Linked DNA regions of Homo sapiens. The protein of the gene in region 2 purifies or fractionates together with the protein of the main gene of each other region. This does not show direct contact. Each region holds a gene or a part of one and is shown on either strand. Other genes may lie near its edges.

Region 1 (8,119 bases), on a different chromosome or scaffold from region 2:
AGATCTGCAATGCGACTGCTGCTCCATGGCCTTCTTGTAGACCTTGCACTTTCCGGCACCTCCTGGCCTCAGGTCCAAAGTCTCCAACAGCTCTGATACCACTACCTTCCTACCCCCTATCCCGGGCTGCAGTTTCCATCTGCCTCCCATTCCTCTCCTACCCTCTCCCTCCACTCCAGTAAAGGTAACCTTATAATTTTCCTGACCTCCTTTTCTGCGTTTCTCTCCTCATCATACTCTAAGAAGTTTTTCCTAATTTTAAGAAAAGGAAGGCATCTATGTAAGTTAGGGTATGGACCCGAATAATCTTGCTCTTACTATCCCCAAAAACAAAAAGAAAGTACAATCTGTCAACTCAGCTGCTCTATCACTTTAAGAGAGTAAGCATCCCGAAGGCAATGACCATCAACCTCAAATATACATCTATCTGTCCATCAGAGTGCATAAACAATGCTCATATTCATGCAATGGAATACTACTCAGCAAGAAAAAAGAAACAACTAAAGATACACACAATGGGGATGGACTTCAAAATCATGATGTCAAGTGAGAGGGAAAGAAGTCTTTGACAAAGAGCACATATGGGTATGATTCTCTTTATATGAAGTTCTAGTGCAGGCAAAACTAACCTATGGTGGGGGTAGGAGTGGGATCGCATGAGGGAACTTTTTGGGGTGATATTCATGTCCTGTATATTGATAGCGGTTTGGGTTGATAAGTATATGCACTTGTCAAGTTATCAAATGGTGCACATAAGATTTGTGCGTTCAGCCAGGCGCGTTGGCTCACGCCTGTAATACCAGCACTTTGGGAGGCCAAGGCAGGTGGATCATGAGGCCAAGAGATCGAGACCATCCTGAAACCCCGTCTCTAATAAAAATAAAAAAAATTAGCCGGGCGTGGCAGCACACACCTGTAGTCCCAGCTACTAGGGAGGCTGAGGCAGGAGAATCGCTTGAACCTGGGAGGCGGAGGTTGCAGTGAGCCAAGATGATTGCGCCACTGCACTCTAGCCTGGGAGACAGAGCAAGACCCCATCTCAAAAAAAAAAAGATTTGTGCATTCATTGTTTGTAAATATCCACTCAAAAGAAAAGAACTATAAACAAATATTGAACTCTAGTGAATGATATGTATGTTAAAGTATTTGGGGCGAAATATACTGATGTCTACGTTTTACTTTGAGATGTGTAAAATTTTAAGACAGCTTGATGAGGTTGGGCAAGGTGGCTCACATCTATAATCCCAACACTTTGGGAGGCCGAGACGGGCAGATCGCTTGAGCTCAGGAGTCGGAGACAAGCCTGGGCAACATGGCAAAGCCCTGTCTCTACTCAAAATACAAAAAATTATCTGGATGTGGTGGTGCATGCCTGTGGGAGCTACTTGGGAGGCTAAAGTGGGAAGATCACCTGAGCCTGGGAGGTCGAGGCTACATTGAGCCACGATCATGCCATTGCATTCCAGCCTGGGTAACAGAGTAAGACCCTGTCTCAAAAGAAAGAAAGAAAAAAAAAAAAAACCATAGCCTGATGGATGGATCAAGGGATACAGATGTGTAAAAGCAAGGATAGGAAAATGTTAATTGTAGAATCTAGGAAATGGAGGGTATTCGTTGCAAAATTCTTTAACTTTTCTGAATGTTTGCAGGTCATTGTGATAAAATTTTGGGAAAAAATATGTATCTATCAGCCACTTCCTAAAGGCAAGCAACATAAAGATAAGTAAGCCCAGTGTCAGAGCTCAGGCTTTGGATATCAAGTAACAAACCTGTGAACAAATCTGAGTAAACAGGGCCGGGCGCAATGGCTCACGCCTGTAATCCTAGCACTTTGGAAGGCCGAGGAGGGCAGATCACCTGAGATCAGGTGTTCGAAACCAGCCTGGTCAACACGGTGAAACCTTGTCTCTACTAAAAATAGCTGGGCATGGTGGCATGCGCCTGTAATCCCAGCTACTCAGGAGGCTGAGGCAGGAGAATCGCTGAAACCTGGGAGGCAGAGGTTGCAGTGAGCCGAGATCATGCCACTGCACTCCAGCCTGGGCGACAGAACAAGACTCTGTCTAAAAAAAAAAAAATTAAATAAAAATGAAAAAAAATATGAGTAAATAGCTATGAAATCTCAGGCAAATCACTTAAGGCCTCCATGCCTCCATTTCCCCATCTATAAAAATGGAGATAATAATGGTACCTACCACCTAAGGTGGGGGAATTAAATGAAATATATTTAATTACCCTCAGAGAGGTACCTAATAGTAGCAGGGCACAGTTTTTGCAGTCTAAATGACACAGTAGAGAGGATAACAGAGTACACAAGTATGACTAAAATAAGTCAAAACCTTTGTACATGGAAAGTAAAGCCCAAAGAAGTGAAGGTAACTTGATAAGCACAAGGCCAAGCTGGATCACACTGGCTTGAGTCCAGAGGGCCCACGTAGCTAGTGCCAAGGATACTATGGACAGGCAATTTGTAGGGGCAGAAATACAAATGGCCATCAAACATGAACAGGTATTCAGCCTCCATAACATTCACAGACATGTGAAATTGAGGTATACTATTTTCAATTAGCAGTTTAGTAAAAACTATCAAGGTTGATAATATCAATCAATTAGGGCATGGGATGCAGGGAGTCTCATAAGTCTTGGTGGAAACACAAATTGGTAGGTTGGTGCAAAAGTAATTATGGTTTTTGCCGTTACTTTTTTTTTTTTTGAGACGGAGTTTCGCTCTTGTTGCCCAGGCTGGAGTGCAATGGCCCGATTTCAGCTCACTGCAATCCGCCTCCCGGGTTCAAGCAATTCTCCTGCCTCAGCCTCCTGAGTAGCTGGAATTACAGGCATGCGCCACCATGACCGGCTAATTTTGTATTTTTAGTAGAGACGGGGTTTCTCCATGTTGGTCAGGCTGGTCTTGAACTCCTGACCTCAGGTGATCTGCCTGCCTCGGCCTTCCAAAGTGCTGGGATTACAGGCTTGAGCCACTGCGCCCGGCCCTTTTTTTTTTTTTTGAGACGCAGTCTTGCTCTTTCACCAGGCCAGAGTGCAGTGGCACGATCTCTGCTCACTGCAAGCTCCGCCTCCCGGGTTCACGCCATTCTCCTGCCTCAGCCTCCCGAGTAGCTGGTACTACAGGCGCCCGCCACCGCGCCTGGCTAATTTTTTGTATTTTTAGTAGAGACGGGGTTTCACCATGTTACCCAGGATGGTCTCGATCTCCTGACCTCGTGATCCGCCCGCCTCGGCTCCCAAAGTGCTGGGATTACAGGCGTGAGCCACCGCACCCGGCCTGCCGTTACTTTTTAATGGCAAAAACCTCAATTACTTTTGCACCAACTAATGTATTTTCAGAGGTCAAGTCAGTGGTATCTGTGAAAAAAAAAAATTTTTTTAAGAGACAAGGTCTTGCTTTGTCACCCAGGCTGGAGTTTGGTGGCTCAATCATAGATCACTACAGACTTGAACTCCTGGGCTCAAGTGATCCTCCTGTCTTAGCCTCCTGAGTAGCTGTGACTACAGGTGTGCGCCACCATTACTGGCTAACTTTTTAAAAATTGTTTTAGAGACAGGTTCTTGCTATTCTGTCCAGGCTGGTCTCAAACTCCTGGCCCCAAGCAATCCTCCTGCCTCAGCCTCCTGAGTAGCTAGGATTACAGGCACCACCACTGCACCTGGCATATGAAAATATTTATGTACATATTCTTTGGGCAATTCCATTATAAGACATCTATAGGTACATTCACATAATATACATGGCTAATCCTTGCAGCATTGTTTATAATAGCAAGTCTATAAATATAAAAGTCCTTACTAGAGAATAGTAAAACTGGCCAGGTGCAGCGGCTCAGGCCTCTAATTCCAGCACTTTGGGAGGCCAAGGCGGGAGGACTGCTTGAGTCCAGGAGTTTGAGACCAGCCTAGACAACACAGTGAGACTCTGACTCTACAAAAAAATTTTTTAAAAGTAGCTAGGCAGTGGTGCACACCTGTGATACCAGCTACTTGGGAGGCTGAGGTGGGAGGATCACTTGAGCCTAGAAGTCAAGGCTGCATGAGCCAAGATTCGTGCTACTGTGCTCCAGCCTGGGTGGAGGGAGATTATGTCTCAAAAAATAAAAAAAATAAAAAAAAATAAAATGCTGGGCATGGTGGCTCACAACTGTAATCCCAACATTTTGGGAGGCTGAGGCAGGCAGATCACTTGAGGTCAGAAGTTCGAGACTAGCCTGGCCAACATGGTGAAACCCCATCTCCACTAAAAATACAAAACTTTGCCGGCGTAGTGGCGCACCTGTAATCCCAGCTACTCAGGAGGCTGAGGCAGGAGAATCGCTTGAATCCAGGAAGCGGAGGTTGCAGTGAGCCGAGATCACGCCATTGCAGCACTCCAGCCTGCGCGAAAGGGCGAGACTCTGTCTCAAAAAAAAAAGCTAAATTATACAACTGAGCAGTTGTATAATTAAAAGTAAAAAGAATGAAGTAGATTTGTATACACTGACCTGGAAAGATTCTATACTATATTGTTAAGTGAAAAAATAGGTTGCAGGATAGTTTATAATTTTGCTAAAATTTAAAAACCTATATCTATATATGTGCATGAATATATTACATGTACGTTGTGTACAATATTTGCATATGTGTAGGAAAAATATATGCTCTGGGGAGGAGACTGGAATTTTAGAAGGGTCAAATAGACTTGTGTTTCATCCATATTTTAATTTTTTTTCTTTTTTTTTAAATAACAGAGATGGGGTCTCACCATGTTGGTCAGGCTGATCTTGAACTCCTGGCTTCAAGTGGTCCACCCACCTTGGCCTCCAAAGTACTGGATTATAGGCATGGGCCACCGCACTCGGGCTATATTTTAATTTTTTATAAGAACATTCATCTGGTAAATGTGTATTTGCTTACACCTAGGAGCTTCAGGGAGTGGAATTATCTATCATTTTTCTTCTACTTTTATTTCATCTTTTTTTTTTTTTTTTTTGAGACAGGGTCCCACTGTGTCCTCCAGGCTAGAGTGTGGTGCGATCTCGGCTCACTGCAGCCTCAACCTCCTGGGACTCAAGCGATCCTTCCCACCGCAGCCTCCTGAGTAGCTGGGACTACAGGCACTCGCCACCACACCCAGCTAACTTCTGTATTTTTTGTAGAGACAGGGTCTTGCCATGTTGCCCAGCCTGGTCTCAAATTCCTGGGCTCAAGCAATCTGCCTATCTCAGCCTCCCAAAGTCCTGGGATTACAGGTGTGAACCACTGTGTCCGGCCTACTACAGAAATTTTTTAAATATTTATATAAGATGATATTTTATAAAACATATATTAAACTATAAACATATATAGTGCCTAAAATATATATAACAAGCTTTTAAAAAGCAGTCTGGCCAGGCGCAGTGGCTCACACCTGTAATCCCAGCACTTTGGGAGGCCGAGGCAGGTGGATGACGAGGTCAGGAGTTCAAGACCAGCCTGGCCAAGATGGTGAAACCCTGTCTCTACTAAAAATACAAAAAAGTAGCCGGGCGTGGTGGCGGGCGCCTGTAATCCCAGCTGCTCGGGAGGCTGAGGCAGAGAATTGCTTGAACCCCGGAGGCGGAGGTTGCAGTGAGCCAAGATTGCGCCACTGCACTCCAGCCTGGGTGACAGAGCGAGACTCCTTCTCAAAAAAAACAGCAGTCTGGAAAAATTCGATCCAAAAATTTATCAGTGGTCATCTCTGGAGAGTAGGGGAGAAGAAGGGTAACACTTTAGTAACGCTTTAGCTTTCTACCTAATGATTCAACTTTTTTCCAGACTAAAAAAAAATGGACAAACTAGTAGGCAATCCACCAGCAGTAAAGCTGCAAACAGGGTAATGGTCAGTTTAAGGATTGCCTTCATGTCTTGAAAAAGTTTCAGTGGCTTGGGGGACTTGGTTAAAATAGAGTTCACTGGTGTCTTGTGGCTGTAAGTGGGGACACATTTAAATGGGTCACCTAGCAGCTGGCAAAAGAAAAAAAAAACCCAGGAAATGGAAACTATAACGTTAGAGTCCCAAGACAAGGGTGCCCAGAGTTGGCTGTGGTGGATAGATACTTAGGTCAGTCCTCCCACCCCCACCCCCAGACCACACTCATAAATAAATACAAAGGAAATACTTTCCCGAGAGAGCCGGCCTCTCTCCCTTGGCCTCTGACCTCCCTGAGCGGCCGTTTCCTCCAGCCCCGGGACCCCGGCTCTCTCCCCGCGCTCTGCCCCTCGCCAAGGGTTGTAGCAGCGGCCGGAGGGGTAGCCAGCACCTGGCCTGGCCCCGTGCTCCAGGGGGAGCCTCCTCCCGGCCGGCTGTGCTGAGCTCCGCAGCGCCGGGTGACTCCCTGCCAGGTCACACGGAGCTTATCTGGCTCCAGGTGTGCTCCCTCACGCCGACTGCACGCTTCTCACGTGACATTAGCCAGCCCTCACGCCGCCGCGCGGGGAGCCGGGCGGCCCTTGGCGTTTCCCCGCGGCTGGGCCGGCGCAGCCGCAGCCCCGCGGCGCCTCCCGCTGCGATCCCATCTCCCCCGGAAGGCAGCAATCCCGCGGGCCATGGAGGAACGCGAGCGGGAGAGCTCCTGCGGCCTCGCCAGGTTCCCTGCTGCTCTTCCAGGTGCACCGCCTGGCGCTCAGTTCCGCTAACATCCCCTTCCGTGTGACCTTGAGCAAGTCCCCTCCCCTCTCTAAGCCTCCACTATTTCAGCTACAGTTATCTTCAAGGGCCTGACAGCTCAGATTTGGCCCTCAGCCTCTGCTGGAGAGCTATTCTGCTCAACCACACACTGCAGGTTGTAATCCCGCTCTGCCTCTGACTTGCTGTGTGACCTTCAGCCCATCATCCAACCTCTCTGAATATTAGAGAATAATCACAATAATCTCTTGTAAGTGATGATAAACTACTTGGCAGACAGAAAGGGCCCTGGGTCCTGTAAAATCATCAGTCTAACAACCAAAACTGCTGCCTGACTCTAAACTGTTTAAAATGTCAAGGGAAATTGACATTTTACAAGCCCTGCAATTCCTACCTCAAAAGAAGGGCAGGGAAGTGAAGGTGGGAAGTGGAGGCTCACCAGGTCTGCTCACCACCCCTCCCAATCCAGCTCCTACCTCGGCACCTCCCCAACTCCTCTAATTCAGGCCACCTTGGAAAATGCTAGGGGGAAGAAATGGTGATGGGGTGGGGTGTGCAGATCTTAAAGCACCCGGGGGTCTGACCCAAAGCAGAACTTAAACTCCATCAAGCTGCCCTACCAATCCCAAGTCCTGTGGGAACCTGTCAATTACAGCAGACAGTGGGCTGGGCCCTCCTACTGCCCCAAACCTTTAAACTACAACCAGCCAGAGCCCCTCAGTTTTCCCACCACACTCAGGCCTGGGACCCCAGGCCACCAACAAAACCCAGCTCACGTGGATGCTCTGGCTCCTGCCTGTGGCGTCCACCCCAGGTGAGAGGATCTGGCTGAGGAGAGACCTCTGGTTTGAAGGATTAAGAACAGCCCTGCTGCCCTGAAGACCTGTGACACAGCAAGTCCAGATGAAGGCTTCCTGAGTTCCAACAACTCCCAGCTCCACCTCAGCAGGGTGGATTCTCCCTTTCACATGAGCCCCAGTTCTGCCCCACCCAGTCCACCTTTAGGTACCTGCCTCTGGGGGACCCAGAGTTTTCAGGCCCAGTTTCTGAAGACACATGCAGTCCTCAATGAATAGCCACTACCAGGGCCAGTGAGGGGGCCTCCAGGGAACTGGCTGGCTACCCAGACAGCCCAGGAGTGAGGCTGAGAGACCAGGTGGGAGTCAGGAAGGGCATAACCCACATGAGGAAAGTCTGGGGCGCAGGAGGAAGCCCTCAGGCACACACTCTGGCACCTGGGCCAGGCCAGGAGAGAGTAAACAAACTAGACACTCAGAGCTACCAGGCACCAGGTCATCAACTGTTCAAAGTTCAAAGCTCCCAAAGGAAGTGACCGCCAGCCTGTGGCCCCTCCCATGCCCACCCTCCACCCCCACCTACAACCCTTCTCATTCCCCTAATCCCTCAACACAATAGCTGCCCCCAAAGCCATGGTTTTCCTGGAATTGAGGCCACAACCCCCATGTCCTCAACCCAAAA
Region 2 (9,239 bases):
CCTTAAGGTTGTACAGCACCGAATCTTTCCTTCTTTAACTTGAACTCTTTAGTGGTCTTCTCACTGAGACAATGGAAAGGAACTTTTAAAACCTCTTTTCCTACTTGGAATCCAAACTGAATCATGGACCTTCATTTCCATAAGGGTCAGTTTCTGGAACATTATCTAATATTACACATCTCCCAAGAAACACAAGTTTAATATACAACAAATTAACCCTCCAAAGTTGGGTGAGGTACACTAAGACTAAGATGAGCTCGGATGAGCCGAGTAATGTGGATTGATAAACCAGGCATACATCTTCTGCATTTTGTGTGTGATACTCTGGAGTATAAACATGTAAGTAAGAGTTCCCATGTCCAGTCTGCCTGTCTGTCCACTCTGTACTTCAAGGTGAACTTAGTCATCCAGAAAGGGCCAGGTAGGTGGGTAGGGCTAACGCTTTGCACAATTTAATATGTGTAATTAACACAGAGCTAGTTTTGTGAAATCCTAATGTTGTATACTGGCCAATCTGTATGATGGTAAATAACCTGAAAGAAAGGTATTTTTTCTTATTGCAAGACTCACTTGGGTTCCAGTACCACCTAAACTGGTAACATGGGATAAAGAATGAACACTAAACTATTTGTGTATGTATACACACACACACACACACACACACACACACACACACATCCTTTGTATGTATGTGTGTGTGTGTGCATTCTTTGTGTATCAGAAAGACAGGATATCCACCTACCCTATGTAGGAAATACTTTAGGTGCCCTATTCTGTAAGGAATGGAGGAACTTCCTGAAGAGGCTCGGGAGGGTTATACATAAACAGGTAAACAAAAACACCCAAATCTTTAGATACTGAAGGAGGCTCACTTACTCAAGTTTACAGTTAGGAACATACCCATAGAAACAACAGTTAGGTGGTGTTTACTTTTTCAGAAGAGGAAACGACTTAATATTGCCAAAGATTGACTCCAGTTTTGAAAACAAGTACTGAATATTTAATTAAAGCAACCTTCCATTTCCTAGGAGTAAGGAAAAGGGGAAAAAAAAGTAATTCATTTACATATTGTTGCTACCTCACTACGAATCACTATTTATCAGATTCCCTTATACTCTAGGAAAATATAATAGACCATATTCACAATCACTGCCCTAGCTATAGAGAATTATATTAATAATTTCTTTCTGAGGCAAAGCACTGGTTCAAACATGGCCATTTCAGAGTGAAAAAAAAGTATGTAAAATAAATGTAGAACCTATTTCTCTTTTTTTTTAAAAAAAATTTTTCTTCCAACTAATATACTTATTTCTTTACCCAGGTGCATTTTTTGGAAAGAACCCTCTGAAAAACTTCCAGCAGTTGAATTTGGCGGGAAATCGTGTGAGCAGTGATGGATGGCTTGCCTTCATGGGTGTATTTGAGAATCTTAAGCAATTAGTGTTTTTTGACTTTAGTACTAAAGAATTTCTACCTGATCCAGCATTAGTCAGAAAACTTAGCCAAGTGTTATCCAAGTTAACTTTTCTGCAAGAAGCTAGGCTTGTTGGGTGGCAATTTGATGATGATGATCTCAGTGTTATTACAGGTGCTTTTAAACTAGTAACTGCTTAAATAAAGTGTACTCGAAGCCAGTAAGTGCTCTGGGACCTCATTATTTTAAGCCTGGTAGTTAAAAAAAATCTTGCAAAAGGATGCCAAAGAAGATAAGGACGTGGAAAGAAGTTTAATTTGATGATTAAAAACATGCAACAGTTTTGTGTCTTAGCTCTCCTACTAGGATTATCGGCGCCTTGAAGGAATTCTCATTCATCTTTGTGTTACCTTTGGTCTGGGTCACACCAACTGGTATACTGAATGCATATTAACTTAGTATAGTGCCTGGCATGTAAGAGATTCTCAACAATATTCTCAATAAATATTCGCTGAATATGAGATAAATTATTAATAGCTACTGAATAAAGAAAGATTATTTAAAACCAGAGAGGAAACTCCATATATGTTCTTTAATCCAAACAGTTTAATTCAAGCAATCTGGAATATAAAAAGCACTTTCTGATATTAGAAGGAGATCAGACTCCCAAAAAAGATCAGCATTCTTTAGTCAAGCAAAACTTGGAAGTTTACAAACAGCTAAATCAGAAGCTTGAAATTCAGGTCCTCTCCAGTACCTGCTACATTATATGTAATTCCAAACATGACTTCAGAGATTAAAGAAGAAAGGGAAGATGTTTCCCATTCTTTTGTACCCTATATAAACTAAGGGTACCCTGCCCTAATCTTTTTTCCAACACTTCCCCAAATAACCCTTCCTTACAAAGAAAGAAGTCTAAGAGAACTCTCTCATCTAAATATATTTAAGTAGAGGCAAGCCTGAAAAAAACACAAAAACCTAAATGGTGTTAGGCTGTGGTTCACCTATTCTCATGGCACCTCAAATTAATGGCTTGGGTGTTGGTGTAGGTAACGCTTGGCCTGTATGTTGAGGTAGTCACTAGATAAAATTCTGGGCACAACATCCGTTTAGCAATTGGGCATACATTCTACAGATTTAGCCATAACGTTTTGAAGCTGATTATTTTACAGATCAACTAATTAATTCCTCTCCCTAACTTTACAGATGAGAAAGCTCAGATGATTTGCCCATGGGTTATAAAACTACTTCCTTACACAGTGGCAGCATCAGAACTGGAATTCAGATCTCTTGCCTCCTAGGCAGTGTTTTTCCTATTATAATATGGTGACTTCGTAAAGCAGGGTTAATTACATTCCACAAAGCTTACATCCTAATCACAAACAATGGGACAAATATTTAAATTGAACTTCTTTCTCTGTCTAGCTTCAAGTGATTCTGTGGCAAGATTTACTAGTAAGGCTGCTGCCTATAGGCCTATGCTGGGCAAGTTCCTTATTTTCATATCCAGAAGTTAGTCAGAGCTTGGCAAATAAGACTTCTCTATATAATAATGCCTGGCCCAATGTCCCCTGTAACATCTTACATGCAGGACGTAGGGCCAATTCTTTCATAACCCACAGGCAACTGTGAGTGTCCTTTCTCAAATAGTGAAGGTAGGTATTAAAGCACCTTTGGTGGGACAGATGCACAGGTGTTGCCTCTGAATTGGTGTTGAGGAAGTAGGCATAAAACCTCACACAGAACTGTGTTTGGTACCTGAACACTTTAAAATCCTATGGGGATGGGGAAGACATGCATGGGGTGGCAGCACATACCTCTTAACCATAACTCAGGACACGGCAGTTCAGATTTCATGCATGACCCTAATTCATATTTAGTTGAGATCAATGGAGGAAGAAGAATCATCCTGTAATAGTAGACCAATAACAGATACAGTAATAGTTGGAAAACATAAGATAAAGGCCAAGGAACAGGTTGCCTTATTACATTTTACGAAGTATCATTTTCCCCAGTAGTCAAGGTAGTGTAGGCTGTATTTCTTTAGCAGGTCACATGCCTGAACAGGGGTTGCAGATGCCAAAGACAATGACCAACTCCTCACTAAGAAAAAGGTATTTAGGACATGGTCACTTATTACCACAGATGACAATTCTGCTTGACAGAGATGGCTTCTTGGATGTTTTTAATCCACAGTGAAGAAAAAGGATTTCAAAGTGCTGCTCCTATTTGAAAGTGAATGAGTTGACTGAAGAAACTGTTGCAAAAGAAAAACAAAAATCTTCTCTAGATAGCTGGCTGATGGCTGGGAAAGTCATAAATCTCCAGGAGCATTGGATTCCAGGAAAGTTAAGTCCATTCTCAAAATCCCATTTTAAAACTGTTATGGAATGCATAATAAAATAAAACAATAAAAAACCCTCCTAGGTCATGTGTGACTGCTGCTTGTTATACTTTTTGGAAGTAATACTAGCCATGTTAGAAAGTCCTTAAACTCTGCATTTGGAAAACAACTAAAAAATAACATAATCTATGTAATTCTCACATTTCATCACAGTTAACAATTTCCCATTTTTGACAAAGCAAAACAAAAAGAAACTGCCCACTGCAGACCTAACAATGCTGTATTCTATAATCTAAGGTCCATTATGCTTTGGTAAAATTATATATGCTCAAATTCTTTGTGCAACTTGAAAAGACATCAAATTCCATATTATGTATGGAACTCCATGTGTTTTGGTAATATATCTGATATATTTTGTTAATAAAATAAGAAATTAAAAAGCCAATGAATGAAAATGTGTCAGGAAAGATAAATTCATTATGTCAGTATTTGATTAAATGTAACATAGAAAATTGGGATTCTTTCACTGCATATCACCAAAAGTTGGGTAGTCACTTAATCAAAATAAAACACTGAGAACCATGGACTATTTACAAATGTACTAAAATTTTTAAAGGAGAGAAACTTTAACAAAAATCTTGATAATTAAAAATTCAAATTGTGCTAGATAGAATGTATTCCAAAATTTCTGCTAAAAATTTTTGCTTTTAGTTTGTAAGACATAATTCAGGAGAACCTCAAAGAAAAATTTAGCAATTAAGTTTGGAAAAGCTATAAAAGAGACTTTTACTTTTTGAACAGACATTTTTCCCTTTCCCAAAATGTGTATTATTCAAGAAGCATATTTATAAATTTCATTAAAGAAAATATCGGCCAGGTGCGGTGGCTCACACCTAATCCCAGCACTTTGGGAGGCTAAGGTGGGTGGATCATGAGGTCAGGAGTTCAAGACCAGCCTGGCCAACATGGTGAAATCCCCCGTCTTTACTAAAAATACAAAAATTAGCTGGGCGTGGTGGCAGGTGCCTGTAATCCCAGCTACTCGGGAGGCTGAGGCAGGAGAATCATTTGAACTCAGGAGGCAGAGGTTGCAGTGAGCTGAGATCATGCCACTGCATTCCAGCCTGGGCGACAGAGTGAGACTCCATCTCAAAAAACAAAACAAAACAAAAACTAAGGAAGCCTTAATAAAGTACAGCCTTAAGTTAATAATAATGTATTGGCCGGGCACAGTGGCAGAGCAAGACTCCGTCTCGGAAAAAAAAAGAAATATCGTATCTTAGTAATGTGACAGATCTACTCCATCAAGTGGCTCTTATAAAGGTAAGGTCACATCACACTGCAGTCAACTACAAAACCAAAGATACCAAAATCCAAATTTAAAGAAACACATTTTCTAAAGGAAGCCTATTTAAAGCCTTTAACATTTACGAGGATTTCACTGTCACAAATACATTTTACAAAAATATAGTTTCATAGGTTTCATGAAATGTGAACAAGACTACTATTATCTAACATTTAGAGTAAATGATTAAACAGTCAATGCAAAGTTGGATTACTAAATAAATTGGAAGCCAAGGAGTCAATATTCCTTATAAAAATAAGTTAGAGTCTATCATGGTCTTGGTTGTCCAATTCTATTATTAGTTCCATATCTACTTGGTATATTTGTAAAACCAGTCCTCAATCCTTGAGTTGCTCCAATTCCTGGAACTCCAAGTCCTTGATTAAGCATGCTGCTGTAAGGTGTGTGTCCATGATTGAGACCAAAACCATAAGGCCTTGTTTGTGTGTTTAGAAGAATAACTGGGTTCACATTTTTCCCAGGAGTGTTAAATGAAAATTCTGGAGGTGGACTACTAGGTTTAGCTGGAGTTGATGTAACTGGGTTCAAATCATCAGTACCCTTTAAAAGAGGCATTGGGATTACGTGATGATCTGAAAAGTTTAGGACATTGGCTGCAACAGGCCCAGACAATAAGGCAGGCCTAATCCAGTCATCCTTGAAAATTTGAACAGTTAGAGTAGACACTAGAGTGTACAGCCTGTTGGTCACATGAGCAAGAACCATTTGTTCATTGGCATCTCGTCGAATTCTTACATGCACTGATCCAGCCTAAAAGGGGCAAAATCATAACAAAGAGATTGCTTAGAATTATACTAACAAAAAATTCATTAGATAAAACATTTTATTTATGATTTGGTAAGTTCCTGGCATTTTCTTTGAAAGAAAAAGCTTAATGTTAATATTTCTTAAAGACTACTTGCTGGTGATTATCATTGTAATGAGTTAAATAATTTGTGAATCTTTAAAATACAAAAAAAGAAATATCCATGTAGGAACAAGATAGGAATATTATAATACAAGGAAGAATATAAATGAAACATACAAAAAATACAATGTAAGAGCCGAAAAGGTAGGTATTAATTCCAATTGAAGAGGACTTCAAAAGAAGATGGCATTTAATCTACGGTTGGTGATTAAACAGAATTTCAAAAAGTAGAGACGCATTCCACACTGAGGGAAAAGCAATGAAAATGTATGGCATACTTGGTAAGAATAAGCAATAATACCAATATATAAAGAAGTCCTGGCCGGGCGCAGTGGCTCACATCTGTAATCCCAGCACTTTGGGAGGCCGAGGTGGGTGGATTACCTGAGGTCAGGAGTTCGAGACCAGCCTGGCCAACATGGTGAAACCCAGTCTCCACTAAAAATACAAAAAATTAGCCAGGCATAGTGGCGTGTGCCTGTAATCCCAGCTACTTGGCAGACCGAGGCAGGAGAACAGCTTGAACCCAGGAGGCGGAGGTTGCAGTGAGCCAAGATCGCACCACTGCACTCCAGCCTGAGTGACAGAGTGATATCCTATCTTGAAAAAGAAAAAAAAGAAGTCCAAGTATTTCAGGGGGCAGAAGAAGGAGGAGGGAGAGAGAAGAGAGGGAGAGAAGGAAGAGAGGAAGGAAAGAAGAGAAGGAGAAACAGAGGAAAGGGCTGGGTGTGGTGACTCACGCCTGTAATCCCAGCACTTTGGGAGGCTGAGGTGGGCGGATCACCCCTGACGTCAGGAGTTCGAGACCAGCCTGACCAACATGGTGAAACCCCACCTCCACTAAAAATACAAAAATTAGCCGGGTGTGGTGACATGTGCCTATAATCCCAGCTACTCAGGGGGCTGAGGCAGAAGAATTGCTTGAACCTGGGAGGCGGAGGTTGCAGTGAGCCGAGATCACGCCATCGCACTCCCAGCATGGGAAGAGAAGAAGGGAAGAAGGAAGAAAGAAAAATGATAGGTAGGTAATAAGGTTAAAAAGAGGCTACCAGAGGACTCTAAAATGATAAAGAATTTCAATTTAACATCTGCAACCTAACAGAAATAAATAATCAGAGTTCAGAAAAATTGTAGGTATAGATGACTGGAAATCAGGTAGGAAAAAAACTTCAACAATCTAGATTATAAATGAGGAGAGCTGCCAAGTGCAGTGGCTCATGCCTATAATCCCAGCACTTTGGGAGGCCAAGGCAGGTGGATCACCTGAGGTCAGGAGTTTGAGACCAGCCTGGCCAACATGGCGAAATCACGTCTCTACTAAAAATACAAAAATTAGCTGGGCATGGTGGCATGCACCTGTAATCCCAACTACTCAGGAGGCTGAGGCAGGAAAATCACTTGAATCCAGGAGGCAGACGTTGCAGAGAGCAGAGATCATGCCACTGCACTCCAGCCTGGGAGACAGAACAAGACTCTGTCACAAAACAAAACAAAACAAAACAAAACAAAACAAAACAAAACAAAACAAAACAAAAGAGGAGAGCTGAGCCAGGCCAAAAATAGTGGGATCAGAGAGGGACAGACAGATATATCATATTCCAGAGGTAGTAATGGAAGGACTTGATACCCAGCTGGAAGTAAAGGATGAGGAAGATTGACTCATCAAAGATGATATCAAGGCTTCTAAGGGATAGAGAACACCAGGCATTACAATGAGAGTTAGAAGTATATTTGTTAACTTGAAAAAGTGTTTACCATAAATTATGGGTTTTTTTGGTTTTGTTTTTTTGTTTTCTTTGTAGAGATGAGGTCTCACCGTGTTGCCCAAGCTGGTCTCGAACTCCTAGGTTCAAGCGATCCTCCTGCCTCAGCCTCCCAAAGTGCTGGGATTACGGGCGTGAGCCACCATGCCCGGTCCATAAATTATGTTTTTAAAGTAGATAATCAGCAAATGATCCTATTTTGGTTAACACAAACACACACACACAGACTCCCCCAGCCTGAGCAACATGGTGAAACCCCATCTCTACAAAAAATAAAAAAAATTAGCTGGGCGTGGTGGCACACATCTGTAGTGCCAGCTACTCAGCTACGCAGGAGGCTGAGGTGGGAGAATTGATTGAACCTTAGAGGTCGAGGCTGCAGTGGCTGCACCACTGCACGCCAGCCTGGGTGACAAAGAGAGACCTTGTATCAAGAAAAAAAAAAAAAGAATTCAATCCCATTTACAATATCCACAAAAGAAATAAAATACCTAGAAATACATCTAACCAAAGAGGTGAAAGATCTCTACAAGGAGAACTATGAAACACTGCTCAAAGAAATCACAGATGATACAAACAAATGGAAAAACATTCCACGCTCATGGATTGGAAGATCAGTATCATTAAAATGGCCATATTGTCCAAAGCAATCTATAGATTCCATGCTATTACTATCAAACTACCAATGTCATTTTTCATAGAAGTAGAAAAAAATATTTTAAAATACATATGGAACCAAAAAAGAGCCCAAATAGCCAAAGAAATTCTAAGCAGAAAGAACAAAGCTGGAAGCATCACATTACCTGAATTCAAACTATAAGGCTACAGTAACCAAAACAGCATGGTACTGGTAAAAAGACAAACACATAGACCAATGGAACAGAATAAAGAACCCAGAAATAAAGCCACATACCTACAGCCATCTGATCTTTGACAAAGTCAACAAAAATAGGCAGTGGGGAAAGGACTACCTATTCAATAAATGGTACTAGGATAGCTAGCTAGCCATATGCAGAAGAATGAAGCTGGACCTTCACTTTCACCATATAAAAAGATTAACTCAAGATGGATTAAAGATTTAAATTTAAGACCTCAGCAGGGTGCTATGGCTCATGCCCTGTAATCCCAGCACTTTGGGTGGCCGAGGTAGGCAGATCACCTGAGGTCAGGAGTTCAAGACCAGCCTGACCAACATGGTGAAACCCTGTTTCTACAAAAATGGAAAAAAAAAAAAAAATTTGCCGGGCGTGGTGGCAAATGCCTGCAGTTTCAGCTACTTGGGAGGCTGAGAAGGAAAAATCACTTGAACCCAGGAGGCAGAGGTTGCAGTGAGCTGAGATCATGCCACTGCACTCCAGCCTGGGTGACAGAGCTAGACTTCGTCTAAAAAAAAAAACAGACCTCAAAACTGTAAGAATCTTGCGAGACAACCAAGAAACACCTAC

Evidence for each region.
Region 1: the proteins of SLC30A6 (region 2) and MYO18A purify together in Homo sapiens (affinity purification with mass spectrometry; 3 studies listed by BioGRID and IntAct, with this or other methods). This does not show direct contact.

The regions. Positions count from the first base shown.
Region 1 is NC_000017.11:29,170,399-29,178,517, forward strand, and holds part of MYO18A (unconventional myosin-XVIIIa), read right to left. Parts: intron 6,376-8,119; exon of another isoform or gene 6,174-6,375; intron 1-6,173.
Region 2 is NC_000002.12:32,216,848-32,226,086, reverse strand, and holds the end of SLC30A6 (zinc transporter 6), read right to left. Parts: intron 5,875-9,239; coding exon 5,374-5,874; 3' UTR 1,708-5,373; downstream 1-1,707. Other genes in the region: NLRC4 (NLR family CARD domain-containing protein 4), read left to right, coding at 1,322-1,614. UniProt on the Homo sapiens protein: Has probably no intrinsic transporter activity but together with SLC30A5 forms a functional zinc ion:proton antiporter heterodimer, mediating zinc entry into the lumen of organelles along the secretory pathway.